3 linked regions of the Homo sapiens genome follow. The protein of the gene in region 2 binds, or shares a complex with, the protein of the main gene of each other region. Each region holds a gene or a part of one and is shown on either strand. Other genes may lie near its edges.

Region 1 (11,831 bases), on a different chromosome or scaffold from region 2:
CTGGAGGCTGAAGCAGGAGAATCGCTTGAGCTCCGGAGGTGGAGGTTGCAGTGAGCCAAGATCTTAGCACTGCACTCCAGCCTGGGTGACAAAGTGAAACTCCATCTACAAAAAAAAAAAGAAACAATAAAATTGTGAGCATCTGTGCTTTGATTAAAAATTAGGCCATTGTTTTATTTGACCTGTCTGGATTGAGGCTAATTCCCTGTGTTCTACCTTCTACCACTTAGTGACGTTTCCCAAATTGTGTTCCATGAGACATTTGTTCTATGAATTGTTCCTTAAAAATTAAAAAAGGAGGCCAGGTGCGGTAGCTCACGCCTGTAATCCCAGCACTTTGGGAGGCTGATGTGGGCCGATCACAAGGTCAGGAGATTGAGACCATCCTTGCTAACACAGTGAAACCCTGTCTCTACTAAAAACACAAAAAAATTAGCTGGGTGTGGTGGCGGGCACCTGTAGTCCCAGCTACTCGGGAAGCTGAGGCGGGAGAATGGCGTGAACCCAGGAGGCGGAGCTTACAGTGAGCCGAGATAGCACCACTGCACTCCAGCCTCGGCAACAGAGTGAGACTCTATCCAAAAAAATAAATAAATAAATAAAAATAAAAATAGATAAATAAAAAAAGAGGTTTGTGGCCAAATACTGTAACTAAGATTACCATATAAATTACTATTTCTAACTTGAATACTTGTGAACGTGAGTCGAGGGCCTTATTATTGATAATAGGCATAACCCTGGACTGTCCCTGAACAACAACCAGATACGGTCACTCTGGCAGTGACCCCTCTTGTTAATTCACATGCCCGTCAGCACACTTGGGACTCTGCGGAAATCAACATGTAACCATAAGGCACATCAGCATCCTGCAGTAAAATCACTTCTTTAACATTGTTTAACTTCATATTTCCCAAATTTCTTTGACTACCAAACCCTATTTTTATATCACCAATTAACATCCTGTAAGACTAGCGTCTTCTAGAATACACTTTAGGAAGTGTACTTGTTGGCATCGGGTCCTCTCTACTCTTAACACTTGGTACTGTGTCTGCTGCCCTTGCATAGGAGTGCAGAATACAATGACTGCCAGTACAGTACTGCCTTGATGGTGCTGAAGCACTAGCAGTTTTTACCTACCAATGCTTTTGCATCATCAGTGCAGACGTCAACACAGTAAAAATGACAAGTAATGCCTTAGTATTGTCATGCTAATCATTTTGACCTCGTGGATCTCCTTCCAAGATCTTGGGGGGCCCTGAGAACCCCTGGAACACATTCTGAGGACCACTGCTCTGGCCTTAGTAAGATCATGTTTTCTCCAAAGACCATGTCATAGTCCTGAGATCCAAAGCAGGTTTCATCTTGTTTGGCCTACCTGACATAGATGTTAACTCATAGCATGCTCTAATAAACTTTTGTATATCTGCATATGGGAGATCCATCTTTTGAATTATTTGTGAATAACTTGTAATGCCACATGGGTTTTCTTCTGTCATCCAACACCCTTCTAAGCAGTCTTCATCACTCTCTTTTCAAACCTAGCTCCTTCGACTTCCATATGTGAGTTTTATGCCTCTGTGTTGCTGAGCTGCTGTAGATTCCCCGAACATGCCTTGCAGTGTCTCTCTGGATTTATACCTTATGAAGTGCCTTCTTCCTGGAATCTTGACTAGCCATGTCCGCCTGATGAGATCTCACAAACCAGTTCAAGTTGTGGCTCAAACCTTCCCTGATCATTTCTCATAAACCAGTTCAAGTTGTGGCTCAAAGCCTTCCCTGATCATTCTCTCCATGAGTAAGCTTTCTATCTTCTTGCTTCTTGACAGGTTTTTGTGTCATTAATATTTACTTAACCTTGACACGGCTGAGGTCTTCCTGCTACTCCTAGAGAGCCACATAAGCTTGGTTCAATATCTAATCCTCCCCCTGGCCAATTCTGCCAGTTTCCAGCCTGAGAAAATCCAAATTACTTCCCACAATTTTTGTGAATTTCTAGTCTCCTCTGCTGCTAGTTTCTACTTCTGTTTTGTATTGAATTAGCACAAACGCAAAATTCAGCCCCTTTACCAATTTTCTCTAAAAAAAGCAGAAACAAAAATTCATCCTACAGAGTATCCAAAATGTTTCTTGTATTTAGTTGACTTTTCTAAAGCTCTAGTGGTTTCAGGGTCACGTTGCAGGCTGACAGCTTCTCCTGTCTACCACTGTTTGTTTTATAATAATTTCCCCTCTTTCCCTCTATCTTTTGCCCATTCTCTTGGAGGTTCTTCCTGTTTCTCTACTTATCTCTTGTTGTTGTTGTAGTTCTGCAGAAACCTTTAGGATGACTTTGGAATCTTGCATGGTACAAAGTATCTCAAGTGGCTTATGGAAGTATTGCTTCAAACCAATGCGGTGTCTCCCTAAGAAAAATTCTTGTCAATACAGTTTTATATGTATACATATACATTGGCACTGTCAACCACTTCTTGGCATATGTGTATATGTGCCTCATTCATTGTTTTCTCTTTTATTTGAGCTTCTGAAGGGAGGCATGCATCTTACAGACCTTGGTATCTATCTGCTACAGCTCCTTGCATGGCCCCTTGCACAGAATAGTCATTTAATAAATATTTTAAATAAACTAATTGCTTGCTTTGTTCTTACATAAAAAATTAACATTTCCCTAAGCATAACATCATTAGCAAGCTAAATTGACTTTAGCAAACATATATATAATTGATCCTATCATTTAAATCCAGCATCTGTGGTATGATGGTGGAAGGGAATTGTTGGTTGGGGGATGGAGGTTTAACAATTTTGTATTTTCACCCAACCTTACTTTTGTACTTAACGTGGGGAATCTCTGGTACAGTGTTTTTGTACTTCAGAAATACGTTGAGCATGTTTCCAGTTGCCAGCTTCCAGTGTGCAGCCTTTGGGTAGTACTCACATTACAAAGTTCCCATGTGCTGTCTGGGAACTTTCTCTCTGCCAGGAAGAGAAATGTCCTCCTGTGGTCCCAGCAGAGTGTCCCTGGCTCCCTGGTCAGTCCGCCTTTTCACTGAGGGGACCTCACCCATATTACCGAAAAGGCTGTTTTTAATAATCTGTGATCTGTGTGCCAAATCTGCCTTCACATTGGCTTTTTATTCTTGGAGTGGTTGGATTAGATTTTGGTTTGGGCTTTTTTCATTTATAATAATTCTAGAATGTCACATACTGTGAAATACTAAGTGTGGATGAGCGGCAAAGCTGCTTTAAAACTCACCTGTCAAGAAGCAAGAAGAGAGAAAGCTTACTCATGGAGAGAATGATCAGGCTCATATTTTACATTCTTTTTGCATTGGTGCTTCCCCCATTTTCCTACTGTGGGAAACCCAACATACAGCAGTGAGGAGTTAAGAAGTCACACCCTCACTTGGGTTGTATTAGGATTAATTACCTGTGCAGATCTTGGATAATTGAAGCAATTACTCTTCATTTCAGCTCCAGGGCCTGGAATGGATGGTTTCCCTGTATAATAACAACTTGAACGGAATCTTAGCCGATGAAATGGGGCTTGGAAAGACCATACAGACCATTGCACTCATCACTTATCTGATGGAGCACAAAAGACTCAATGGCCCCTATCTCATCATTGTTCCCCTTTCGTAAGTAAAGTCATTTATTCCACAGTCATCGTTCTGTATGTTGTAGAGTGCCCGATTAGTAGCTTGTCCTTGTTTTTTACTTAAGACAGAATTGTAGCATGTACTAACCTAAATCCAGATTACCAAGAGCATGTAATCTGGATTTAGGTTTTAATTTCCCACCCCTCCCCATCCTAGCCTGTTTGATTGGCTATTTAAGCACGGGACCGAGTGATTTTATCGGCCATCAGCATTACAGGTCTGCACAGCCTGAACACTGCATAGTGAGTCTTGCTCATCATTATTCCTTAAGTGGCTCACAAAGGGGAAAGGTGTGTGTGTGTGTGTGTGTGTGTGTGTGTGTGTGTGTGTGTGTGATTTCTTTGATTTTTTCCTTATTCCATTTCCAAAAGATGATATATTCTTAAATCTTCCTTTTAAAAGCAGAACATAAATCAAAATCATAACTAGGAGTTTTGCATTAAAATAACCTTAGTATGTGCACTGAGGTTATGTTTCAATGAGTTTGCTGCTTAGTAAGGACAGGAGTTTGCTGTTCGCCATTACGTTCCCAGTGCCTCACCTGCTAGGTGGTTCTTAGAAGGTCCTAAGTGGGCACTACCGAGTGAGGGCACAGTGATTCACAAGCACCCTCCTGGGAGTTCAGTGTGTCTGCCTGTGGGTGTTAGGTTGCAGTTTTGTTCACCAAGGTCTTGTTATAGATCTCAATGCTGATATGAACTTGGACCTTCAGTAAGAAGAAGGATTCTATTAATATTATTGTGTTTTCTTTGAATTTTTTCTAATGAAGACTATTTGCAGCCCTTTTTGTATGAATTATCTGTATCTGTAATATTTAGGCATCTTTTGCATTTGATCTATATTTTGCGTGTTCTGAATCATATATACAGTGACACTTTCAGGGCTTTAAAAAACGTCATTCAATATTTCTTCCCCTGTTCCCTCTTGACAGATTTATTTTATGTTTTCATGTGGTTTTATAATTTCTTTTTCCTGACTCATCTTTTTTCTGAACCTATATGGCTGTTTATGAAGATTCCTAAAATCATTCTGGCAATTGCTCTTTTTTAATATCATATTACAGTTTAGTTTTTTGCTCTCTATATTTATGTATTCTTTAGTTTTTTTCTTACAAGATTTTTTTATGAACCACAAACTTGTCATGTTTTGTGACAGTTTGTTTTGAACTTATCTCCTATTTCCACACCTTTAAAATAAATATCTTGTTGAGATATGTTATATTCTGTAGCCCCTTTCAAGGTGAGGCCTGAACATGAATAAGAACATCTTTTTAACCATTGATTTTTATACAAATGTCTTTTTTCTGTTGTTTTTTTTTTTTGTTCCATAGGACTCTATCTAACTGGACATATGAATTTGACAAATGGGCTCCTTCTGTGGTGAAGATTTCTTACAAGGTTTGGAATGCTGTATTTATATATAAATGTGGAAAAGCAAAAAATAGACCCTATTTTCTTCATTCCATATGCACATCTGTGAACTGTATTTGGTTGTAAAGTTTTGTCATGTACATCATGTACTAAACCGTGAGAGTTAATCATCCCAAGAAGATTACTGTAATAAACCATAATTACTTTCAGATAGTGAAATCCAGAAGAAAATTGTTAATTATCATATTGCAAGGTTTCTGATGAGAGTAATACAAATGACAAATATCACACATTCTGCGTGCTGCTGACTGGCTCGCTGTGGGCTGCTACTGTGCTGACTGTTCCTGCAAAGTCAGGCAATTACCCGGATGCCCGGGGCTGCCTGCTGTACTTTCTCAACAGAACTGGAGCCTTTCAGCAGAGCGGTGGGTTCTCTACTACCACAAATTCACTGTCATTTCCATTTCCCTTTGCCCTCCCACTGTCTTTGGTGGGAAAACCTTTCTAAAAAAAGATCTGAAAAGGGTCAAGACGTGTAATTTAGCCAAAACTTCCTCGTGTATAATAGATCAGTCTATGAGAATGTGTGTCTGTGCATTCTTCAGTCACATGTCTGGGCATCATTAAGCTATGAAAAGTGAGAAATAATGCACATATATGTCCATAGGATCATGCATGTATTTTTTTCTTTCCATTCAGGGTACTCCTGCCATGCGTCGCTCCCTTGTCCCCCAGCTACGGAGTGGCAAATTCAATGTCCTCTTGACTACTTATGAGTATATTATAAAAGACAAGCACATTCTTGCAAAGGTATGTTTTTAAAAAATTATTTTCTCTCTAATTAGGACCATTGCACTGGAATGTGAAGTATTGCCCAAGTCAGTAGTGTAATTGGATCCTTAGATGGCTTGTCCTTTTCTTTATTTTTCTAAAATTTTTTCAGAGTTTGATATGTTTTGGTCGTGGATTTGATTTCATGCATGCTGTGTGTGTGTGTGTGTGTGTGTGTGTGTGTGTGTGTGTGTGTGTGTTTATGATTGATCCTGGGGCGGCTCTTGTCTATCCCCTCAGAGTTGATGAGTTTACATCTCTTAAAAAAATTCACCTGGTTGCTTCTGCAACTCTTTTTCTCTCTAACAGCTTTGCACATTCTCGGGAAAGAAATAATTGTTTTTGTTGCCCTGAGATATTGTCAGTGTACCTTCATTCTTCTTGTGCCTTTGTTTCTCCAAAGATGAGCCAGACACCTCTCCATATGGTCTCCACCATATGAACATTTATCCAAGCCGTGGCTTTTGTGGTAGTCTTGTTTCAGGTTTTTCCTGGTGAAATAATAGACTATCATTGTTGGAGTTACTTAAGGTTGTTTCTGTGACTATTTATTTGAAACTGAGAAAGAGGTGTTTCTGTGACTTACATGTCTCCTAATTTTTATGTCCTAAGTTGTTCCTTAGCCACAAAGTAGAAATTTTTACTCCCATTTATATCATCTTGTCTTCTAATACGTTCATGTAGAAAGATGGAAGTGCTCTCTTTCGTGGAACAAATAATGAAAACTCTTTTTTTTCCTCTTTAGTAATTTTTTTTACCCCATGACGTTTTGAAAGCACTATAATCTGAAACTAAGTTATGTCCAAAATTGAATAGAACCTCTATTTCTGGGGTCTATTCTACCTCTGCATTAAACTCTTGCTCTGGGAACTGAGAGTTCCCTTCATGGCATCATAGGAAATAACAAAAAGGAAATGTGTTCCCAGGGGAGGTTTAATAATTGAGATGGCACTGGCAACAATGCTGTGTTCCACCTCCTCACACTCAGAGATGAATTTGGCAGTGTCAAAAATGATGTGTTTTCAATATTACTATGGGAATGTGTTTGTACATTTGAGATCCTTTTAAAAAAATTCATCTTGTGTCTTCTGCATATGTATTTCAAGATTCATTGGAGACGCCTGGTAATGAGATGCACTGCTTTTATTTGTTACTGGAGAAATGGAGCTATAGAAAGAGGTAGTAATTTTGTCCAAGTGGAAGACCTAATTAGTAGTAGACCCCATAGCAAAATCAAAGGCCTCTGATTCTTTATTATTTCATAAGCTAAATTAGGCAGGAAAGTAGATTTAGGATATTTATTTAAATATATTTTTTGTCTGCTTGCCTCTTTTCATGCTGTTGGTAAGTCTGAGGCAGTTGATTGTACAGCTTTAATTATCCTTAAACACTTTTCTTAGAGGTGGTGGAGGAAGGAAAAAAAATCGAGGTAGTTTTTTTTTTGTTTTTTTCTTACCTGTACATCCCAGCCTGACTGATGATTTTATTCCTTTTCTCCTGGCACGTCTGATGCTTCTAATGAGGAAGGCAAGGACTGTATAGAATACTTTCCTCATCTCCCTTCTCTCTCTAGGAGCTTTGCAGCAGGATCTGGGGACATCTGAGCACCAGATGTTTTTCTTGGCCATTGCCACTGTTTTGTAGAGAATGGATAGGCTTAGTGGAACATTCCTCATTGTTCTCACTTTAAGAAACTGAACAGTGCTCTTAAGAGGACTGAAGGGTAAGGTATGAGAGAGGGAACGTACTGTGTAGACAGGAAGGAGGACTGGGCCATATAAGCATTCTGGACGTTTTACGCAATCGTCATGTTGGGGAAGTATGCTGTATTTAATTCTGCAGTTTTGGCATAAATACAGGAGTGATATTTTTGCAGTGCGCTTTCTGCCAGTGAGTATATTCTTTTATTTTAGATAAAACAGGGGTCCTAGATCTGGCAGGTAAGGAATGTGCGTGTATTGAGGGAGCTTCGTTGTCAGACCTAATTTTTGAAAAGCCGTATGTACAAATTTAATGTGAAATAGTCCAACTTTTAAATGTTAGCAACCAGTCCAAACAAAACAAAACACACTTCCGGGCCAAGCCCTAAAGGTAGTAACCAGCCAGGCTAATAGAAAAGAAGGCATGGAGCCAAGAATATCTCAGCTGTAGAACCTGCTAGGGCCATCTTGGAAAAATCAGTCATTAACCTCTGCTTCAGGTGGGTACCTATATTCTGTGCCTGTCATGAGCTGAAATAGCATGACCATGAAATCTGGGATAGCTGTCATGATAACGTATTAATAGAAGGGGCATTGGATGGGGAGAGGCAGGATCCACACGTGGAAACAACCATGTCATTCTGGACCCAAATTTCCTTCTTTGTAAAAAGTTGATTTGGAATTACGTGGTCTGTAAGGAACATTGTTCCTTTAACATTCTATTATTATAGGATGTCTTATGCGGCCTATCAGGCATGAGACATTGTTGAGATTCCCTTGTCTCAAAGGTAATCACAGCATATCATATACCAAGGATGGGTTCTTTGGTTTTCCGCACCACCACTTGCTTGTTGGAAATAGTTGTATTTTCCCTTGCTTACTACACGTCCGTCCTTCCTCTTGTGTTATAGATTCGGTGGAAATACATGATAGTGGACGAAGGCCACCGAATGAAGAATCACCACTGCAAGCTGACTCAGGTCTTGAACACTCACTATGTGGCCCCCAGAAGGATCCTCTTGACTGGGACCCCGCTGCAGAATAAGCTCCCTGAACTCTGGGCCCTCCTCAACTTCCTCCTCCCAACAATTTTTAAGAGCTGCAGCACATTTGAACAATGGTTCAATGCTCCATTTGCCATGACTGGTGAAAGGGTACTGGTCTGAGTTCTGTTTTTTCCACTGCATGATAATGACATGAAATGAAAGGCCCTAAAGCTGAGAACATTAGAGCCACAGAACACCCGCAGGGTGGTTTCCACTGTTGTTTATTTTATGAAACCCATCGGTGGGTGGACATGGTCTTGTGGTGGGGTTATTTTCCCCTCCTAGGAAAATGGATCTAGTGGTACATGGGGCATCTAACCCCTTTGTCTTTTGCCAGCATGTTTACCAGGCTACCAGAAAAGGGTCCCAACCGGTGGAATGCTTAACTGCAGTGGGCCACAGGGAGGATGAACATGGAGATATTTTGCTGAAGTAATTTAACCAGACCAAATTAACCAACTAAATACAAGCTTTAAACAAATCTTTCCTTGTTACAAACTTGGAGTTCCCTTTAAAATATTTCCACATAAAGATTTTGTGTGTAAAACAGAACTAGTTTTCACACATTTTCTGCAGACCTTTTTTTTTTCTTTTTAGGTTTTAATGTGATTTTCAGTTTTGTGTGTACATAAATAGTCTTCCTGGAGTAGCCATTTATTTTCCAATTTCTTATTGTTCCTTCCACTGTCTTCTCTTAAGAGCTCATTTATGAAAGGTAGACAATGGGCCATTGCAAGAAAAGAAATGGGCACGTGTCATTTTCATAGTGGTTCCTCATTCATAGGAATGAAAAGCCACTAAAAATGCTTTAGTAAAATTTCGGTTTGAATTATTTGGCCCTTTGATGTTGAGGCACATGGGCCCATCCTCAGTAGTTAACTCACTGGCTTGCCCATTTGTAGAAAGTAGTGTCAATCAACTCTGCCCCCTAGAGGTTAATAGGAGAAGGTGAAAGAGAAAGCCGGGAAATGTATAAGATGGACTAAACTTGAACTAGATAGGGCTGAGAAAAGGAAAGGAGTGAAGTTAGAGGGACTTAGAGGTCCACCAGCATAAACTGGATCAACTCTTGTTCCTCTTCTTTATATGTTCAAGCCCCTGTTCCTTTAGTATGTTTCTGTGTCTGAGACAACCAAGACGAAGGGCCTAACTTAAGGCTGCCACTTTAAATAGGGAACATATTAACTGTTGCCCACCTTCTCCCATTCTATCTCAGTCTTCAGTCTGTCTTCATTGACAGTCATATCCCATACAATTTGAGGCTGTTGACACTACTGATAAAAAACTGGTGGCTTCCGGGCTCTTTTCCATAGAACTCAGCGTTAAGACAAAGACACCTATTTAGAGGTCATTTTGTTACCACTTGGTAGGCAGGTGGGAAGATAATTCAGAGGTAGATATGACAGGCTTAAACTTGGCTTTAATGCATGTAAAATGTCAATCATGTATTGAACCACACATATGTAACATAAAGCTTTATTGTATGAAACATCCTTTTCTTTAAAAAATCAAATTCATAATAAGCCTCTCTTACAGGTGGACTTAAATGAAGAAGAAACTATATTGATCATCAGGCGTCTACATAAGGTGTTAAGACCATTTTTACTAAGGAGACTGAAGAAAGAAGTTGAATCCCAGCTTCCCGAAAAAGTATGTTGCACAACCAAAAGTTGTGGGTTTTTTTTTTCCTCCAGCAAATATATTTGAAGTACCTGCCTCTGAAATTGTGTTTCTGAAACAGCAGACTCATATTGTAGTTAATAGTATCTTGAAAATATCTTAAATTGTTTTTTTGTTTGATAGGGCTAGAGAGAGCAGGGAAATTATAGCATTTGCAGCCTGTTTTCCAAAAGCGTTCGAGCAGATTTTATGAAATTATCAAATTCACTGAGTCTCATTTACATTTTAATTTTAGATTTTTTTTTTTTTTTAAATTACGGACCTCATTGAGTTCACTGTTGCAGGCACTGTAGAATTGTTCTGCTTATAAGTGAATGGAAGATTTGGCGTTGGGGACTTGTATCATCATTGAAGGGGGTGGTAAACATTTACAGGTTTTCTAGAAATTTATTTAACATTTGATGTTTGTGATGTCACCATTCTGACAGTAAGTGAAAAAACAGAGTTCCTGCAAATTACAGACACATCATCTAATTATTCGGGGACATTATTTTTGTTCTGTGCCATAAAAATTAAGTTCCTGTGAACATTTTAAGCCAGTATTTTTCGGACTAACTTTTGGAAACTTAGTCTGCAGTACTTTAGAACACCTTTTGAGCCCTTAGCTCCATGTTTTGGGGTTGGATGTGAGTATTAGTTTAATATGTTTCTGATCATATTTTGGAACCATGCATATTTGAATTCTAAGTTTCATTCTCTTAGAGACAGTTTAGCATTGTGTACTATTTGTTGCATGAGGTATTTTGATTTGAGTTTTTTCTTTAGAAGAGCCAATTCTGAAATGTCTTATTTTTGCATGATTGTGGTTTTTCTGGGTAACGACTCTATTTTTGGACAGATTGGTTCATCCTGTTCATTTTTAAGTGGGAGTTTTCAAGATGGTGTACAACGTTGATCACTTTGTTACGAGAGAATTTTATTCCCTAATCCTTTATGCATTGTCAGAAAAAAAATTAAAAATGACTTTTATACCATGCATATCTCAGTGAAAGTCTACGTATTTAAGTATTTTATTCTGCTGGTGAATGCATCTTGGACGTAGAATGCTATTGATATTCCCTTGGACTTCCTGTGGTCTTGGCCTCTGGGTAGCACCCTTTCTGTTCAAGATGGAGTTTAGTTACTGAGTAGATAAATTGATGAATGGGTATAGTGGCCATGTGGGTGCCTTGAATTACTTCCTAGCATACAGTTACGGTGATTCTGCAAGTGATAGAGATGGAATGTTAAACATTTTAATTTATCCCATAATTTCTTTTTTTTTCTTTACAAGAGGTATAAAATAAAAGGCAATTAACTGAAGCCCTTCATTTATTCATTCCATAAGACTTCTTAATCTTGTTCATTCACTTCTAAGACTGGCTAATACAGATAGATTTTTAAAAATATATTGCAAGTTGAAAGTATGTTATGTTGTAAGAAAATCCACTAGAGAAAAATTGAAATTTTTGCAGCTTAAGAATTATGAGGTGATTAATTATATCACAAAGGAATTCTTTGCTTTACAAAAATATTTATTTTATGGTTCTTTCTACAAGAGAAGTTCCTGAG
Region 2 (11,831 bases):
GGAAAATCACTTGAACCCGAGAGGCGGAGGTTGCAGTGAGCCGAGATCGCGCCACTGCACTCCAGCCTGGGCGACAGAGTGAGACTCCATTTCAAAAAAAAGATAATAAGAATGAGCACTTATTAAAAAGAAAGACTAACAATAGACCATATTATATTGTTTAAAACTTTTCATCTTGCTAATTTCATTGACTTATAAAGAAGGCTTGAGATAGTCACAATATTTTAATTCACTAGTTAAGATTATCTCCATCCACTGTAGGAGACTTTATCAAAATCTGACTTTCTCCTTTAATGTAAGACAATAGCAAACTGAATTATAAACTTTGTTTTCTGATTATAATTAAACTTGAAATTGTGTATTTTTTCTCAATATTTCCATATATATGATCTCTTCCTGTACCATAAATAGTTTTAAGAATTTGCAAGCAAACTTCTGGCTCCTGTAGTAGATAGGAACAAGAGAAGCTGAAGTTCACAGTAGTGGAAAATGTCAGATTATTGCTCTGTGTTGAGAAAACAGCCACTTTTTTGAATGAGATGCTAATTCAAAAAGGGGAGCAAAAGAGAGTATAATGAAGAACCTAACATTATCTCTGCTATCAAATCACTGCAAATACATGCAACCCCGGAATAGTTAACTGCTCTTTCTGAGATGCCGCTTCAATTTGGGCTTAAAATTGCTCTTAATAGTGTCCTTAATAAAGCCTGTCTAACAGCAGGTCTGGAAAAGGCAAAATGATGAAGATGCTCTATGCTTTGACAGTGTACTGTGGACCAACATTGTTTTGTTACAGAACATTCTAAAATAAAAATAAACATTTGTCCATACACATACACATACACATATTACCAGGCATATGGTAAAGACTGCTGAAATGTAAATCTGCCTAAAAGACTTGAGGAAAATGTACTTATAGGCTTAATTAAAGTATATGCAAGGAAAACATTTGTGGCACCATAATAATGTCTTGCTGTAATTTTACAGCAATTTCCATTCCTTTTTCTTGCCTCCACAAAGTTTCACAGCAGTAGGATACAATTTTTGCAACACTGAGGCGGTACTAGGTAGGCCTTAGTGACTGGGAAAAGTGAACCCGTCTTTCCGAAGGGCGAGTTTGTTTGCCTACTGTCAGTGGGAGGAGTGTAAATGAAGACCTTTATCCAAAGCCAGCGTCTATGAACAAGGACAGTATGTTTGGAGCCTGGTCAGTGATGAGAGTGATAACGTACATGCTCTCTATTCACTAAGTCTTTAATTGCGCTCTGTTCAGACACTAAATATTGGCTGTGGTCATTGCCTGCCCAGTATGCGAACCATAAGCTGGGGTGGAGGCGTTGAGTGCTGGCAGCGGACGCAACCTCTTGCTCAGCCTTCAGTCTTACTAGACTGTGCCCACGTTCACTCCACACCTTGCTCGGTGAAATCCTGTTTATAGGATATTTGAATCAGCTGTTAATTCCTGTTAGCATGTTCCAAGCGTTTCACACCCTTTTTGTCCATTGGAGTAATCACTCATGGAAAAAAAAAATGCTATCACAGCCCTCCAGCATGCAGAGCACCACGCTAAGTGTTGGTGATCAGCATCCACCCAAACTCTGACTTGTGAAACTTAGGATCTAGTCGGAAAAGTGGGTGTCAGACAAATAGTTACGTGCAAAACATACAGTTTTACACAGTGTGTGACGTCGTGCTGCAAAGGAAAAGTAAAGCGTGTGGCAGTGGTGAAACTGAGGCCCTGGTTCAGCTAAGTGAGCCAGCCTCGGGAGGCCTCTTCCGAATTTATCACGTAAACTGAGGCCTGACCGTGTCAGTTCCCTGCAGATGCAGTTTCCTACATTATGGTGCCATAAAAATGCCTCTTAGAAGATCTAAAAATTATGAAAAAGAACTATTCTCTTAGAAAGTATCTTCATTTAATTTTTCCAGTGTTATGACAACAAATTGAGATAGGCACAAGTTAATTAAACTTAAGTTTATTTAACCAAGGAGAGAAAAGTTAATATATAGTCAAACTGTGTCCATCATTATCTCAGGCCTATTCCAGCTTGTAAGAATCCAGTCCCTTCAGAAGCAAGAACAAGCATTTCTGTGCCCCGTTGCTCTGTTCATGATTCTATTCATCCAGAACCACTCCCCAGTTTCAGTTTAGAGAGGACCAAACCAGGAACGGCAGATGGATCTTACAAACAGGATATTGGTTGAGCTAATTGGAGCAATTTTAAATTGAAATGATTGCCTTTATTTGTCTTATCTTTAAACTGAATCTCAAACTTTTACCTCAGTTTTTTACAAATAAAATGCAAGAGGGAAGTTGTTTTACTGTTAACTGATTATAGATTATAATGCCTTTTTCTTCATGTTCTTATTTCAATTTTTCACTTTTGAAAACGTTGGACCCATTTTTTTAAGTGTAACTCCCCAAAGAAGAAAAAAACTCTATACTAAAATTTAGAAACCTCCTAATAATAACTGTCCCGTTAATAAAAAAGAAAACTCCATACTAAAATTTAGGAACCTGTTTTTAATAACTGTCCCATTAATGACGGCAGAGCTTCTGAGGTGCTGCCCGGATGAGAGTCTTGTGTAAAGTGTGTTAGAGCAGCCTCTTTTCCTAGTCAAGTAGGCCTTGGGTACAAGGATATGAAAAATAAGCTTTAAAAATTTATTTGGATATATAGTTTCTATATTCTAAGTGTACATATGGGTTTATAGACATATATATATTCACACATATATGAATATGTATACATATATATTTTTTAAGCTCTTATCTAAAGTGGTTTTTAAGTGATGTGAAGTTTAACCTCAGCATCAAAGTATATTCTAAAATATAAAACAACTATTTTTTATCATTCTACATTTTTTATTTACATCAACTGTATCACCCATTACATATTTGATAAAGAGGTTATGCCTCAGTAATTCTGAAGCTGAAGGCTTAAAATCTCAGCCCAGTGACTCTGGAGAATCACGTGTTAGTTAAAGGGAAAGCGGCGGCCTCACATGCTGCGTAAGTTTCATTCTCAGGCATCCTTTCTGAGGGACCTACTTTTACTGGAGATCATTCTGCTAAATAAGGTAACATCTAGCCTCAATGGCAGTCATGTTAGTTAACCCCCTAAACCTTCAAAAATATGTTTAAAATTATGTTAAGCTAAATAAAGAAAAAAGGAAAAAAAACTTAAGAATTCTGTCTGTAATAATTTCTCTATATTGCAAATAATAACCTAGGTATGCATAAATAAAGTAAATTATTGTTCCAAGAAATCTTTATTGAGAACTGAGAAAAGATTTTGTACAATAACCCTAGTATTGCAAATATTGTAAATATTTTTACAAATACAGAGATATAAATAAGAAAGGGAAGAGATACAGTTGGCCCGCCTAGGGCTAAAAGTGTTACCTGTCCAGATTATGTAATCCACGGAGTAGGCTTCAGGTGTTCAGAAACGGCAACTCTTGATATTTTAGTGTCAGGTAAAAGCAGGTACATAGAAACCCAAGAACTAGAGTATCAATATAAAACACATGAGCATATAAATACATGGGCATAAAAATAAATGTATATGTTTATCCATAAATCCCAAAGCTTTGGTTGACCCTTAGTTTATCTAAAAAAAAAAAACAAAAAAAAACAAAAAACACACGAGCTTATAGCCCACACCACTGGTTCCCGTGACTGGAAATCTACCTTATATTTTTCAGCAAGCACCGTGTGGTTGCTCATCCTCCAGATGCTGTAGCATTTTAACGAAGACACCCTTTAGCCATTCTTGTTTTGACAAGGAAAAGTAGGAGTCCATTTAATGTTTTGGGCTCTATAATATCACATGTAAAAATTTTAATTCACTATGATCATTCCATGAGCTAGAACCCTTTTATTTTTAAAAATAACATGAGGTGTCACTGGAATTTTGCCTTCTGGGATTCAACGCTTATATCCAAAAAGGGCTTTGTTCTTTTTTGTTTTTGTTTTTAAGTGTATAAAAGGGGGAGTTTGGGCCTTTTATTTAAAGTAAAAGTAAATTCCTAACTAAGAAAATGTATAGTTTGTGCCTGAACTAGTAGCCTTCATTCCTAATTGTTGTGTGATAGCAGTAGTTTTTAATCTCTTCTCTTCTTGTATTTGTTAGCTCATTACTTTTTTCTCACCTTCTTCCCTCTCCCTCTGCCCACCCATGCCCCACCTCCACATGCTGCTTCTGGGTACTAGAAGTCCAGCTCCTCCACCACTACTGGGGAGAAGATCACGAAGGTGTACGAGCTGGGGAATGAGCCAGAGAGAAAGCTCTGGGTCGACCGATACCTCACCTTCATGGAAGAGAGAGGCTCTCCTGTCTCAAGTCTGCCTGCCGTGGGCAAGAAGCCCCTGGACCTGTTCCGACTCTACGTCTGCGTCAAAGAGATCGGGGGTTTGGCCCAGGTAAGAATGAGTGAGGGAGGGGGTGAAAAAGGAAGCATTGTGGATAAGTTCTTACAGTGGCTTTCTTTGAATGTGTGGACTCATTTTTTTTCTCACAAAGGAAAAGCTAAGCCTGTGTGAAAGTCGCCTTCTTGCAACCCACGTCTGTGTGCTGTCAGGGAGCACTGGGGGACCCTGGCTCTGCCACCAACTCGCAGCGTGACCTCAGCAGGTCATGTTCTTGGACCTCAGTTTCGTCATGTATACAGCGGGCCAGACTAGATTTTCCTGTAGGTTTTCTTACAGCTCCAGAATTCTCTGGAATCTGCCAGTAGTTCATAGTAAATACTCAGAAATGTTTTACAAATGACTGAATTAATTATCTGTGTCAGATATAAGTCACATTTACTGCTTCCCTCTATCCAGAACAGGTTAGCAGGAAAATTAAGTGATACTTGTCAAACCATGCCCACAATAACTGGACAGTTAGGAGGGCCATTGCTGTGACCTCCAGCGGGCTAGGCCTGAGGTGTGACAGGGGAGCTGCCTGGGGTGCAGATTTAAGGAGCTATCCACTGTGTGCTTGCTTGACTCTCAGAGTGAGTGCGTCCTGAAGTCTCATACCCCAGGCACCGGCTTTCCTCACTGTAGCCCTCGCTCCTTAATCAGGAGTCTAGTTGTAGGACCACGCCCTGTCATAGGAACAGGGAAAAGGTACTCACTGTGTAACCTTTGTCTTTCTAAATACATGAGTCACCAGCCCCAAAGCATAGATGAGAAAACTCCTGTGTAACAAAATCAAGTACAGGATGGGGTGCAGTGGCTTACACCTGTAATCCCAGCACTTTGGGAAGCCAAGGCAGGAGGATCACTTGAGGCCAGGAGTTGCAGACTAGCCTGGGGACCCCAGTAAGACTTTGTCTCCATTAAAAACTACAAAACTTAGCCGGGCGTGGTGATGCACACCTACAGTCCCAGCTGTTCAGGAGGCTGAGGTGGGAGGATCACTTGAGCCCAGGAGTTCAAGGTTACAGTAAGCTTTGATCACACTACTATACTCCAGCCTGGTTGACAGAGCAAGACCCTGTCTCAATAAAAAATAATATATTTTTTAAAAAATAGAATAATGCTGTAGCCCAGGGACACTCACAGGGTAGTTGGTGGGGCCAGGTCTGTCTGACTCCAGACACATACTCTTCCCATTTGCCACTGGTTCTGGAGTCCAGCTATGCATTAGAATGGCCTGGGCAGCTTTTCAAAGCTGTCAGTACCTGGGCTACCACCCGACATCAATGAAATGAAACCTTCTGTGCCCAAGGTAATCTAACAGGCAGTCAGAATCAGGCGCCCTGCGCCCCACCAAGGTGGCGGGGGTCACTAACTATCCAAGGGCAAGTCATCTGCCCTGCAGGTGTCACTGACGGCCTACCGTGGTCTCAGTGCTGCGTCTCGGGGGAGAAAGGGGAGGCCTTCTTTGTGCTTAGCCTTCCCACTAGGTGCCTAATCCATTCCATGGGGGAACTGAGACCTGTGACAGAAAGAATTAGAGCTTGCCCATGACGCTGCATAACCAGCTGCTAAGTCGTGTGATACCACGTGTGAGTGATGGTCAGCAAAGAGAATGATTGAGACACGCCTCTCTCTGACCTGGACTCCCTGACCTTTCCCCTCTGCACCTGGGCTCCTTTGCCTTCTGCCCCTGGACTCCCCTGACCTTTCTCCCCTGCACCTAGCCTCTTCTGACATGGATTTTTTAGAATCACCAAGACTGCTCAAACGATTAGATTTTATCAGCCAGCACAGAGTAGATAGTGTCTGGCTACTTCCTTACTGTGACTGTGTCCACAGTATATATAACCAGGCTGGGTCTGTCATGAGACTCTCCGCGGGCTTATAATGAGGGTTGCTGGAATGTAGCTGGGTTGCATCTTTGTCCCCACCCCATCATGCTGTGTACCTTGTGGGCATCAGATGTGGTTGGGAGCAGGTGCTGCCACCACACAAAGCTCAGCTCCCAGCCTTCCTTCTTAGGTCACACTGAGCAGCGCCCAGCTTGCCATTTCTGAAGTAACCTGAAGACCCACAGTTTGCAGCCCTGCATTCAGTGCCAAAAGAGGGCGGTGGGCATCTCCGGGAGCATCCACAATTTATTATACACCACCGAGTACTAAGTAAATGGACAGAAGAGCCGTGTGAGAAAGTTTGAACCCAGAAATTTAATATTTCATTAAAAACCACTGTCCCCTTACCTCCTCCCTTGCCACACAACGCAGGAGACATCAAAAGGCAAAACCTTCCCCAAGTTATTTGCAAATCCTCATGTTTCATCCATGTGTTTAACCGTTTAACCTTTCATAACCTGTTCCCAAGTGGGAATCAAAAGGTTAAAATAATGCCTCGGATCTTGACGTCACATTTCAGGAGTTCTCTTTCTTTCTCCTCCTTTTGCGACTGTGTTGTCTCCAGCCCTTTAAGCCTCCTTGAGTAAGAGCACCGCACAGGAAGGTGTGCACCTGCCCCGTCAGCAGGGCTGGTGGCCAGTGGCATCGCATCATGCTTTTTAAGTTGGGGGCCGTTGGTCCAGGGGCTCATTTGCCTTTGCACGAGGTGCTGCTTTTGCTTTTGCCTGACACCCCAAGCAGTCTTGGGGTGAGGGGATGGGTACGGCCCAGAATCACAGGCCCACTTCTGAGGGCTTGCAGCTGCTGGAATGAGCACTTTCACATCAGTGCCCAAAAACCTAACTTGGAAAATAGTGCCGTTGTTGCTTTTTAAATGTTTTGAGATGCCCTTTTTCCTTAATTGGAGGTGCAGTGGGATGAGCGTGAGGCGTTGGGAGATGTGGCGGGCAGAAGGACCTCCGAGCAGTGCTTTTTCTGTTGCCATCAGCAGGTTCCCTAATGGTTTTATAACTGTAAATGCTGCCTATGCACTGCTGAGTGGGAGTAATGAGCATTAGTTAAAAGAGGCAAATGAAGAAAAGTCAACCAAGACATTAAGTGCTTTTTTTGTCTCCTGGCTTTAAACAAGCCACTTTGTTGCAAACCAATGATCCTGCCGTGTTTTTCACTAGGTTAATAAAAACAAGAAGTGGCGTGAGCTGGCAACCAACCTAAACGTTGGCACCTCAAGCAGTGCAGCGAGCTCCCTGAAAAAGCAGTATATTCAGTACCTGTTTGCCTTTGAGTGCAAGATCGAACGTGGGGAGGAGCCCCCGCCGGAAGTCTTCAGCACCGGGGACACCAAAAAGCAGCCCAAGCTCCAGCCGCCATCTCCTGGTAAGTGGCGGCGCTGCAGTCACTGGCCCAGGAAAGCCCAGGCGCCTGGCCTGGGAGGTTCCGGGAAGGTGGTTTCACAGTCAGGCCAACAGGGAACTTGGGACTTTTGAGAGGTGGGGGGTTCCTGTGTCGTTTTGTTTATTTAATTGGACGCCCACTGGCAGTGTTAAGGGATGAGAGAATTAAATCTGGGATATGGCCATTTCTGGTTGACACTTGGAAGGCACCCCTTCTTTTGCTTTACCTTAATCAAAACAGGCTTTCGAATTCTAAGCCATATACGTTTATTGCTTATACAAGTATTCAAAAAGATTCCATCTACCTCTACACAAAATAAAGATCCCCCAGTGGCCAGTTTGAATACATGTGCACTTCTAGGAAATGCCACCCTACAGGTTCGACAGCTCGAGCTCCCCCGCCCTCTTTCGGAAATCCTCAGATTTGAACTTTAGTAAAATGAAGCCTGGGCTTCGTTTCTAATGTCCCCTACCCAGCAAGTTCTCACTTCTAGGGAATTTAACAAGCTGTCGTGGTAAGGATCCACACGGCCTTGTTTTGGAAACAGGTGGTCTTTTGCAGCCTTGTTCTGGAAGTCAGGGGTCTTAGGAATGGGTGCAGCGCTGGCCACCAACACGCTCGCAGGCCGAGCCACATCAGTGACGCCTGCTGGCTCCCTTCCCTCTCCTCCCCACTGACAGAGACCCTCCCATTCCTTTCAGCTCCCCTGCCAGCCTTCGTTCTACCGTTTGGCTTTCAGATTTGAAATGACAAAATCATATATTCTGATAAATGCAATAGTAGAGAGGGGAAGAAATTGGCACCTTAGTGCTGGGTGGTGACCTTACTCCAGTAGATCCGACCATTCTCTTATCTGTGTCTGCCTCGCAGTCAGCGACCTTCAGCACATTAGCCTCACTGTTCCTGGTCCCTGTCTATGAGATGTGGCTGCACCCACCGCTCCTGTACACAGCTTGTTCTGAGCGTGGCTGGCAGCCCATGTTTCCTGAGCACTTCCAGTGTGCTGGGCCCTTTTCTAAGTGCTATCATTTCATTTTCACATCAGCCCTGTGACATTGATACTATTTTAAAATCCATGAGAAAATGAAGGTCTCGTGGAATCTAAGTACTTGCCCAAAGCCAACTAGCTGGGGAGTAGAAGGTCTTATCTGGGGCATCTGGTGCTACAGTATACACGATACCCACCAGACACCTCTGGCTGTATTGAAAATACCTTTGTAATATGTGAAATGTTTACACATAGAAGCCAGAGAAAGAGGTCATTTCATTTTTAATGATTTCCTCTAGCTGCTGTCTGGATGGCAAAGCTGATATCCAAGGTTGCTAATCAAGGGATCTCACATAAATACGTTTTAGGCCCAAAGTGCACTTGTAGTGAATATACCTAGAATTACATCTGTAGGCTCTAAAAACAAGTAGAAATCCTCGCTAACCTCATCCTTAAAGATTCAAAGGCTTTACCAACTCAGGTGTCCCTTAAAAACTGGGAAATCTAATTTTAAAAATCTCACAACATTACATCCAGTTCACAGAGTAAAACAAGCTGCCTGTGAACAGCTCTGAAACTATTTTTCCAAAATAAAAACCCAGTGGGGCGTAGGGACCAAAGTGGTGATGTCTGTAAAGATCTAAGGGTACATTTTATTTGCCAGGAAAGAACTCGTGTCACTGAATGGGCTGCACTTGTGTATGGAGAATAGCTCTCCCAGTGTGCATCAGCTTCAGGACGGGGGCCCTGCTGAGGCGTATAGATCCTTCAGAAAGTGGAGGGCCTGTTCTCTTAACAGCCAGCCGTTCCCTTTTCCCCTTTTTTAAACTGTCATTTTTATGGCAACATTATCATTTTAACTACACAAAAGAGCTTGGATTGCAAATGGACTCCTGGTATACATTCTTCTCAGTAGTCCAGATGGAGCCGAGGGCCTGTGACACAGGAGGCAGTGGAAGGAAAGCCTCCTGGTCTCGTCCAGCCCCGAGAGCGCGTGCAGGGGGCTCCAGGCACACACAGGCGTCTGGGGGTCGCAGGCAGAGGCACCCTGGTCTTCAGAAGCCTCTCGATTCACTGCCACCCACACAGCAGGTGGCCTCTCCGATTCCAGTCCCATCATTAGGGAAAGTGTCTGGAAACATTTTTGTTGTTAAAGGAAAATAAAATTATTCCCAACTATTGGCCATGTTAGAGTCTCATTTATTACAAGATTTTTAAACACAAATTTACGGTAAAAATGTATGTTCTTTGAAGTCACTTTTTCCTGGAAGAACATAATTATAGTTTATTTTTTACCAGCACATTCAGGCGAACTAAACTAAAAGATTCTGAAGAAACATTTTAGATTTTTTTTCACCCAATGGTTGCTCTGAACCAGCTAAAATCCTAAGTCTTTTGACTGTATTCTAAGAGCACTCTAAGTCATCTGTCTCTAGTCAGGTTTCAATTTGGGGTGCTAATACAGCTCTAGGCTTCAATTCTGTCAGCCTCTGGGAGGCATAAGCCCCTTGGCCCCTGGGGCTGCACCCCACATATCACTGCCAAGTGGCTGTGTGGCTTCTCACACCGGATGTCTGGGTTCCTGTCTTCCAGCCACCAGAGCAAGTCAGTGATTGAGACTCCCAGGTGAACCAAGGCAAGGCCATGGGGTGTGGTTTGTGTCTTTAAGGTGCCAGTGGCGATCTTGTTATAAAGCATCTAGAAAAGGTTGTGGGGGAGTTCCAATGAGCGCTGTAGGAAGCACCTCCCCAGCCTGTAAGCTGGAGATGGGGAGGGGAATGGAAGGGACCAGGCTGGGAGAAGTGGGGCAGGGGTGGGGCATGGAGCTCCACATTCGGTTAATAAGTCTGTAACCAAAAACCCATCCATCTTGGCTGGCAGGTGGCTGACTGAATTTCTATTATTAGCTGACAGGTGATGTCACAAAACCTGTCATGGATCCAACTAGGGAATCCTCAGTGGAAGATAAATGAGAAAGGGACTCAGGTTATAAACAGAGGTGCCCTCTGGTTGACCTCTAGTCACTGTAGACCTGGGACATATCAGCTATTCCTTCTCCCCACCCTACTTCGCTCAACCCCGCCAGAACTAGGGCACCAGGTTCGTGCCGGGTAAATTATCTTCCCAGCTAGGAGCCTGGCCATGCTGTCTGAAGTGTGTGAATGTACTTAACCTTCAGTAACCTTTCCATTGTTTACTTTAGAGTATACATTTGTAGCTTCTGGCAAAAGGTAGGGATGTCCTAGAGAGCCTGCCAGCCTCCTCTATTAATGGAGTTACAAGAGGTTGCATTCATTTTTTTTTTTTCCATGAAAGGAAAGGAAAAAAAAAACACTGGCAAGGGAGATTTTTCCTTTTTTTTTTTATTAGCTATAAATGTGAATACTTGTAAATAAGGGTCTTTCTGAAATCAAGCCTTGCAAGTGATGTTTCCAAGGAGGCTGTCGGCTGGAGCGGAGCCTGCCTGAATTTCGAAAGCAAGTCATTTCTCTTCTGCAGCACTAGGCGGGCAACCATGTCTGCAGGATTATTACCCTTTTATATCTGCAAAAGACGGCTTTCTTCCTTTACTCCAATATACCTTTTTAACATGTGTTTCCAGGGTTTTACGCAAATTTGGTTTGTAAGTATGAGTGAATACATTTTTCTTTTAAAATACCTACAATAAGTGTCAATCTTCTCTGTATAACAAACCCCCATGACATGCGTTTACCTATGTAACAAACCTGCACATCCTGCACATGTACCCCTCAACTTAAAGTTTAAAAAAAAAAAAGTAAATAAAAACTTTTTTAAAAAAGTCAGTCTTTGTGGCATCTCTGAGAACTTCTCTAAGTCATTCAGTGCAGGGCTCACAGGGACGGATGTTACGCAGTGTTCAGCTCTGTTGGCCAGCGTTCATTCCAACCCAGGCCAGAGGCTGGGCAGACCTCATCTGGCTAGGAATGTCTCTGTCTAGCTGAGGCTTTCCGAGTAGAAATAATGTACTCATTTTGATTTCTGACTCCTTCCCAGTGTCCTCTGTAACCTCTCGTGGTTTGTTTCACCTCCATTGCCACTAGAGTAAAATGTGAATAATGGTAGTTGTAGTGAGCCTTGGGAACGTCATAGGAAAGGCATTCTACACAATAACATGGAAAAC
Region 3 (7,399 bases), on a different chromosome or scaffold from region 2:
CTAAAAGCGCTGATGGTTCAAAACACGGGCTGAGGCTTACGACGCAGATGTGACAGCAGAACACCAAGACAGGCCGGGCTGGGGACAGGTAGGGTAGTGTGTGCTGCAGGCTGCAGGGATGCCCAGGAATGGACAGAGTGGACCCTCCTGGTCATGATACCAATGTCCCTCTGCTCTTCTTAAGAGTAACCCAAGGGAGAAGCCCCAAGTGGAGATCAGACCCCCTTGGCAAAAGCCGGGAATGGGCTACATCCATTTGTGCATGGCAGAGGGTCATGGGACCGAGGTGACCTCCCATCATCACTCTGCACAACCTCAGAGGACACCCCTGTGCCCTTCCCACCATCTAGCCCCAAAGATGGTTTCAAACTGTTGCGTGTTTTTTGAAGCAGCAGAACCACCAATAGAAGACACAGATCAAATCGGAGCTGTGCTGGTCACTGGTTTGAGTTGAAAGTTGGGGCTCAAGGCTCAAGGACTTTCCTTCCACCCTTGTCCCCCGAGACCTCTGGGCATCCCCAAATCACTCCCAGAATCCTAGGCCTCTGCAAAGTCTGCTTGGAAAACCACTATTCTAGAACAATGTAAACCTCTGGCCTCATCGTGTCTGGTATTAAACCATGCCATTCCAAGGCACTGCATGGAAACACACTTTGCCAGACACCCCAGAAGGCCCCTGACTCAGGCCAACTCTGGGGGCTGGAAGACAGGCATGATCTTTTGGTGCATGTATACCTCGATCTGCATGGCCCCTTCCCCAAACCCGCTAAGTCTAGGGCTGACTTTATAGAAACTCATGCCTGTATCTATAAAGTCAAATGTCACCCAGCCAGATAAGACAAGATCTAGAACTTCTGATTCCTCTCTCAGTAGCCTTTCTGCCAACCCAGGGAGGGGAAACCATATTATATCTCTATCGCAACCCCACCCCTTAGACTCCCACTACTGCCGGGTGTTGAGCCACTCATCAACATCTTATCCCACTGGTCCCTTCTTCCTAGGTCTCGCCACCTCACTCCACCACCATTCCAAGCCTTTTCCTCTCCCCAGGGAAAAAGCAGAGGAAGGCCGTTCTGCTCTGCGTTTGCTTGAACATAACTTGGATCCTTCCACTTTTCCCCGCTGATAGTTTGGATGTGTGTTCCCACCAAATTCCGTGTTGAAATGTGATCCCCAGTGTTGGAGGTGGGGCCTAGTGGGAAGTGTTTGGGTCGTGGGGGTGGATCCCTCATGAACAGCTTTGTGCCCTCCCAGCGGTAGGTAATGACTGAGTTCTTGTTCTATTGGTTCACACTAGAACTGATTGTTAAAAAGAGTCTAGGACCTCCCCCTCTCTGTCTCACTCCTTCCCTCACCATGTGACACACCTGCTCCTCCTCAATTGAAAGCTTCCTGAGGTCCTTACAAGAAGCAGATGTTGGTGCCATGCTTCTTGTATAGCCTGCAGAGCCATGAGCCAAATAATCCTCTTTTCTTTACAAATTACCCATCCTCAGGCATATCCTTTAGTAACACAAAATGGACTAACACCCCCTCCCTCCTCCATCCCTCTGACTCAGGGCAATGTCAGTTTCTGGGCTGCATTATAATAGTTAACTTTCTCAGGTCCAACAGAACATGGCACATCTACTGCCTTCTCAAAAGACCTCTCTCAGAAATTGATGGGATAAAATGTCTTCGTCTGTTTGGGCCCCTATAATAAAGTGCCATAGACTGGGTGGCTTATCAACAATAAGCCAAATTTATTTCTCACAATTCTGGAGACTGGAAAGTCCAAGATCAAGGTGCCAGCAGATTCGGTGTCCAGCAAGGGCCTGCCTCCTCATGGACAGCCACCTTCTCACTCCAACTTCACATGGTGAAGGGGCAAGGGGTCTGTCTTGGGCTTCCTTTATAAGGGCACTAATGCCGTGCATGTGGACTCTGCCCCCCATGACATAATCACCTCCCAAAGTCCCTGCTTCTAATACCATCACCCTGAGGGTGGAGATTTCAACATATGGATTTTGGGGGACATACCATTCATACCATAGCAGACTAGGATGCAATGCCGGGTTCCCTGGGGTTAAAGCAGAAATGTGCACAGCTCTCTGTGCAGATGAAAGGCCTGAATGTGGGTGTCTGTGTAATCGTCTGCTGCCTGGATTTTGTTATATGAGCCTAAGTCCCCCTGATTGCTGAATTTAGCAGTTCAGCATTGCAGGTCCAGCTGTCACTTGAAACTGCTTTGGGTGAAGGCCTGGCCTTTCCCCTCTGGTCCCTGAATGCGAACATCTCTCCCACTGCAGAGATGGCTCGACAACCTGCTCAATGACCCATGTCCGCAGCAACCATCAATGGCTTCTCTGCCGAAATAACGGCCCCACATTATGCTTAGAAAAGCAAAGGCTGAAGGCGCATGGATGACTCATTAAAGAACAGTGCAGCACTCACTTAGGGGAGGAATAAAAAGTGACATGGTGTCTTCCCACTGCCATGCCCACCTGTGTCTTACCAAAATGCACAGTAGCTTCCAACTAAAACCACGCTGACTGATCGAGACCAGGGAGCTCATGTTCTAGTTCCCTCAATTTCCCCCTTGACCCCGTTCATCACATGTTGTACTATTACCTGTCTGGTGCCTGCCTCCTTGGCAAGATTGTGAGCCTCATGAGAGGTAGAGCTTTGTCTTCTCTGCTGTAGCCCCAGTACCTAGCATAGAGTAGAGGCCTTTATTTATCTATCTAAAATTTATTTTTGGGAGACTGACTCTTAACTTGCAGCCTCAGGAAACCAATTCCCGCATGGACCAGGAGTCCTATACCCACAGGCTGTTGCTTTAAGGCCATTGCTAAGCAGACTCTAGAGACTCTAGGGGCAGATGTGTCCTCTGTGATACCTCTTGCTCCTTGCCCAGGGCAGCCAACTCACTGCCTTCATGGAAGGCAGCTGAGAGAAAAGAAGCAATGACTCAGCTGGCTTCTAGATGGGTCCTGCACCAGAGGTCTCTCTCTCTCCCCAACCATATTCCCCCACCTCTCCTGTGAGTCATCTCTGATTCATCAACCTCCCTTCTCCTAGAAAATCTAGGGGGCTCCTTTCAGGATGCCCTAGGAGCTTCTCTGAGGGGTCTCCAGAAAAGGAGCTGCTCTACTCCTGCAGATGAAGCTCTCAGTTAAGGCCTGAAGCTATGCTGCCCACTGTGCCCATGAAAGCTGTCACGGTGACTGTGGCTTCCCTGGTGCTATGTATGACGTGGCCAGAAGCTCATCACCAGGCAGCAACTGAGACCTGGAATTTGTTGCTCCTGGAGTCTCCCTGCAACCATGAAAGCACTAGTGTTTCTCTGGAGCCTGATGCACACGCATGCGTGTTTCTCTCTCTCCCTCTCTCTCTTTCTCTCTCTCTTACACAATGCAGTCCTACTGCACACCCCAACATGAAAGGGCTCTACCCCCACAGGATCTCTACATTTGCAAGTGAGGTCCTAACTATCCGTAGGGAAAATAAGAGTTTCCAAGAGTTTTAAAGCCTTTTATTTGTTTACACATTCTCTAAATTGCAGACAAAAGATTCACTACGTGGGTAGTCAACATTGCTAACCAATCACAGAACAAGATACTAACCACAGCAAGGAAGGGGTAGGGGCTTGTGACTCAGTCTTTGAGAACGTGCGAGCATTCCATGGGATATCGAGGGGTCCCAAAGAAGAAGGCTGCTCGATCCCCACATTCTTCATCTCATCAGCGACAGGTCTCCCTCCCAGAACCCCATCAGGACAGGAGAAAAGGCAGCAAGAGAGGTGGGGTGGTCCTGGCACGTGGGCCACCAGTCTTCTGAATGAAGAGTGAGTCCCGGGTCAGGAGTCCACATCAGGTGTGGGCTGCTTCCAATCTGTAGGTTCTCCTGGAGATTGTCACAATCTGCCAGCTCTCTGGGAATCACAGAACCATCATGTCCCCTTAGGATGGCAGAAGATGTGGCACAGCCTCAATCTCCAACACTGAAACACTGAGAGAGCTTGATACGTTCCTTAGGCAGGGCAGAAACATCACAGCACTTCACGTTAGGAACCACGAAAGAGTGGGAACCTGACACACGTGGGAAGGGCACATCCCCAGAGGACAGAGGACAAGGGTGGCACACACACCTACAGAGACCGCAACCACATCACAGTGAAGGAGGAGGACAGCTAACGGGGTGGGAGGTGGGAGCTTTTTGTTTGTCTGTTGCTGTCGTTGCTTTTTAGAGAAGCCAGGGTGGGCCAAATGGAGATATTGTCTCAAGACCATTACACACAGCTTCCCAAATCTGTAGCCCTTTTCTGTAACCTCATGAAAGCTGTGTCAGACTCAGTCCTGGTCTGAAGTACCAAAGCAGCCCAAGGCAAAACCTCATCTGCAAGAGGCAATGCGGCGTTGGGTCCCAAGGATCAGTGGGGAGGGTGTTCAAAAGAGCAAAAAGGGAAACCCTCTTTCATAGGCATTTCTCTCACTGGAGACCCACTCTCTTGGTCATTCCTTTATGACTGAGAGTCTCAGAAGGAGTTGTGAGTGTGAGGTAAAAGAGACAAGCAAGCATTTTGGAATGATGGGGATAAAATGTTGCAGTGGCTTCCCTCTCTGGTGCCCATACCTGGAAGAAGCAATCCCAGGTTTGCTTCGTATCTGCAGGTCTAGAGACATCAATGGAGGCAGCAATTGGAGATCTCAGTGTGTTTCCAGGGTCTCTGACTCAACTAGAGGGCATCCAAGGCCTGGTGGAGCCTGTGCAGGCCTGAGCTTCCTCGTGGAGCAGCAGGTAGGCAGCTCATTCCCAGGGACCTGGTCATCCTTCCTACCATAGGAGCCACCTGCCAAAGCCCACCCAGAGGAATCCCAGCGTTCACAAATGGAGGCGCCCTCACCAAAGCCACTGGACCAGCCTGTCCCTGAGAAGAGACACAGAGGGGCTTCAGCAATGAGAAGAAGAAAACCAATTTCTTTTGGCTTCTTAGCAGAGATGCTCCATGTCTTGGCTGTCAGAGAAATTGAGCTTACAAATTGCCCTCACCCTGAACCCACTTGGCAACGGGGAGATGACCTGGTTGAGGTCTAGTTCTGGCTTTTGTGAATCGACCGTGTGACGTAGACAGCACAGCATCAGGCCAGGAAGGCGCCTGATGAGACCGTGTTCTCAGCCTGAGAGCGCGCTCAAGGGCAGGTGGGAGATGGAGCCTTCTCAGAGCTCAGCCACTGGCTCTTGGGCTCCCAGGTTCATCCCTCAAGGAGCTGGGGACCTGAGGGCTCAGGGCCCACCACTGGCTGCCTGGGGGAAGTGCTGCCAGTCTGGTGTGGAAAGGGTCCAAGTCAGAGGCCTTTGCCTCACCCCTTCCACCAGCAGGGCCATTCAGAGAAGTCTTGGCTCAAAAGAACGTTGCCCACAGGCTTTCAAGTAGGTGAGTGGACCAAACCCCTGCATGCTTTTCAGGCTGTCACGCACTTTAAAACCAGACTCACAGCCAAGCCTTGTGTCCCTGACTACCTCCACAGAGATCACCAGAATTCTCCTCACTGGGAGTCATGTGCCATCCAGGGCCCCAGAGGAGCCTTCCCTTGGGCCACCCCCCACAGAGAAGCTATAGCTCTGAGCCAACATCCACACATGGACAGATACACACCTTCCCCCAAGCCCAGGCATTTTGCTTGAAAGCAAGGTTGGTGTGGCTTCTTCAGGGAATAACTCAAAGCTGAAATCTGGCTGTGACACGTGTGGAGAAAAGGAAAGATGAAACAAACGGTTTATTCCTAATGCTGTCAACACAAACAACTGAGAGTCTAAGCCAGCACGAAGCTAGGATCTGACAAGCACCTGGCCAAAGGTGAGCATGGAAGGTTTGCTGAAAACCTCTCTGATGCTGGGTTTCATCCCTGCACACACCAGCAGTGCCAGATACAGGCGTGGGGCAGCTGACCTTGCTGGGGTCTGGTGGAGTGTGCCCAATCTGTACTTGAAGCCCCCACCCCCCCAGTCCCGCTCTCTGCTTTCTCTAGCAGGGAAAAGACCACTGTGGGGGTCATTTTCTGCCTCTGATCAGGCCCTGCCAGTTGCACCTCCCTGCCTTCCACCCCAGAAACCCACAAGCAGCTCTGGGGACACTGGCTGCCCAACACACTCCAGGCCAGGTGACTTCATCAGTTCACCAGTTTTAATGCTGAGGATGCTGTCATCCAAGGGCATCCAGTGCTTGGAAAAGCAGATTAAAGCAACTAGGCTGAGGTCATCTGTTTTCTTCCCCCGACCCCTCAGCCTCCACAGGGTAGAAATCACTGGATGCCTCCACCTGCTTGTCTTCTACTGAGGAACACGCATCCTCAACAGAGAAACCTACATATACTTACACCTTCCGTGATGGCGCGATACTTGACCTACAATCACGATTGCTTGGCAGAGCTTAATTTCATGGCTGAAAAGCAACTTGAAGGCTAGGCCAGCATGCGGTTTATTTTCCAGCCCCTACAGGACCTAGAGCATTGCCTCGCACACAGTCGATGCCCTGCCAAGGGTTTTAATTTAGCCAGTAACAGCCTGCCCTGCAATGATTCATGGCAGGCAAAAGATGGGTTCATTTTCCTTCAGAGGAAAAACCCCCAGGGTGGACAACCATGGCAGATGAGTGGGGGGCAGCTTGGATGGACTCTGTTCCCTTTCCTGGCCAGAGGAGCACAAATGCCCCCTAAGCATCTGACCATTCATTGCAAAAGCATGACCCATCTGCTTTCCCAAATGCCATGTGGACCAGACGCATTGGTGAGCCAGGGACGCCCTGCCTACCTACCCCGCCTCTCTCCAGCCACCTGCTCCCCACCTCCTCTGCTCTGAGATAATCATTCTATATTTTCATGCTCTTGCTCACATATCAGGCAGTGTTTCTGTCCTTTTTTTTTTTCTAGTACCTAATTTAGGCTTCTTCAACTACATGTTGAAAATGTGCACGGGGTATATTTTCTTTTTCCTATACGCCACTGTTGCTTCCCACTTCCCACCTCCACCCCACTCCTTAGCATCTATCACGGCAGAGGGAAGGGAGGAAACAGTGCAGGGAAGGGAGAGGGCAGGAGGAGAATCAGGGTCTCAGTGGGGAGTAGACATGGAAGGGCAAACCAAGTCCGTATAAACCACAAACCCCATTCTAGCCATAAAAGCTTTGCATCCCTTTGATAGCAGAATTGAGACTTTTGAAGTACCCAACTATTGCCAAATATCTTTCATGAAAAGAAGCATAGGTGAACGAAGGGAAGAGAAGGAGAGAGGTCGCGGAGCCAGTAGCTTTCCAAGCACAAGGCTCCCTTTGCAACCCTGGTGGCTGTGCAGAGGCTGAGAGCTGGAGGAGCAGGACTGGAGAAGACTTCAGGAAAGATGCACCTTGCCTGGCAGCCCC

What was found.
Region 1: ARID1B (region 2) and SMARCA2 share a complex: the UniProt entries of both Homo sapiens proteins name them as parts of the neuron-specific chromatin remodeling complex.
Region 3: ARID1B (region 2) and DPF3 share a complex: the UniProt entries of both Homo sapiens proteins name them as parts of the neuron-specific chromatin remodeling complex.

Annotation. Positions count from the first base shown.
Region 1 is NC_000009.12:2,078,364-2,090,194, forward strand, and holds part of SMARCA2 (SWI/SNF-related matrix-associated actin-dependent regulator of chromatin subfamily A member 2), read left to right. Parts: intron 1-3,468; coding exon 3,469-3,632; intron 3,633-4,983; coding exon 4,984-5,050; intron 5,051-5,722; coding exon 5,723-5,833; intron 5,834-8,465; coding exon 8,466-8,708; intron 8,709-10,136; coding exon 10,137-10,250; intron 10,251-11,831. UniProt on the Homo sapiens protein: ATPase involved in transcriptional activation and repression of select genes by chromatin remodeling (alteration of DNA-nucleosome topology).
Region 2 is NC_000006.12:157,176,753-157,188,583, forward strand, and holds part of ARID1B (AT-rich interactive domain-containing protein 1B), read left to right. Parts: intron 1-4,216; coding exon 4,217-4,426; intron 4,427-7,478; coding exon 7,479-7,683; intron 7,684-11,831. UniProt on the Homo sapiens protein: Involved in transcriptional activation and repression of select genes by chromatin remodeling (alteration of DNA-nucleosome topology).
Region 3 is NC_000014.9:72,605,535-72,612,933, forward strand, and holds the end of DPF3 (zinc finger protein DPF3), read right to left. Parts: 3' UTR 3,500-7,399; downstream 1-3,499. UniProt on the Homo sapiens protein: Belongs to the neuron-specific chromatin remodeling complex (nBAF complex).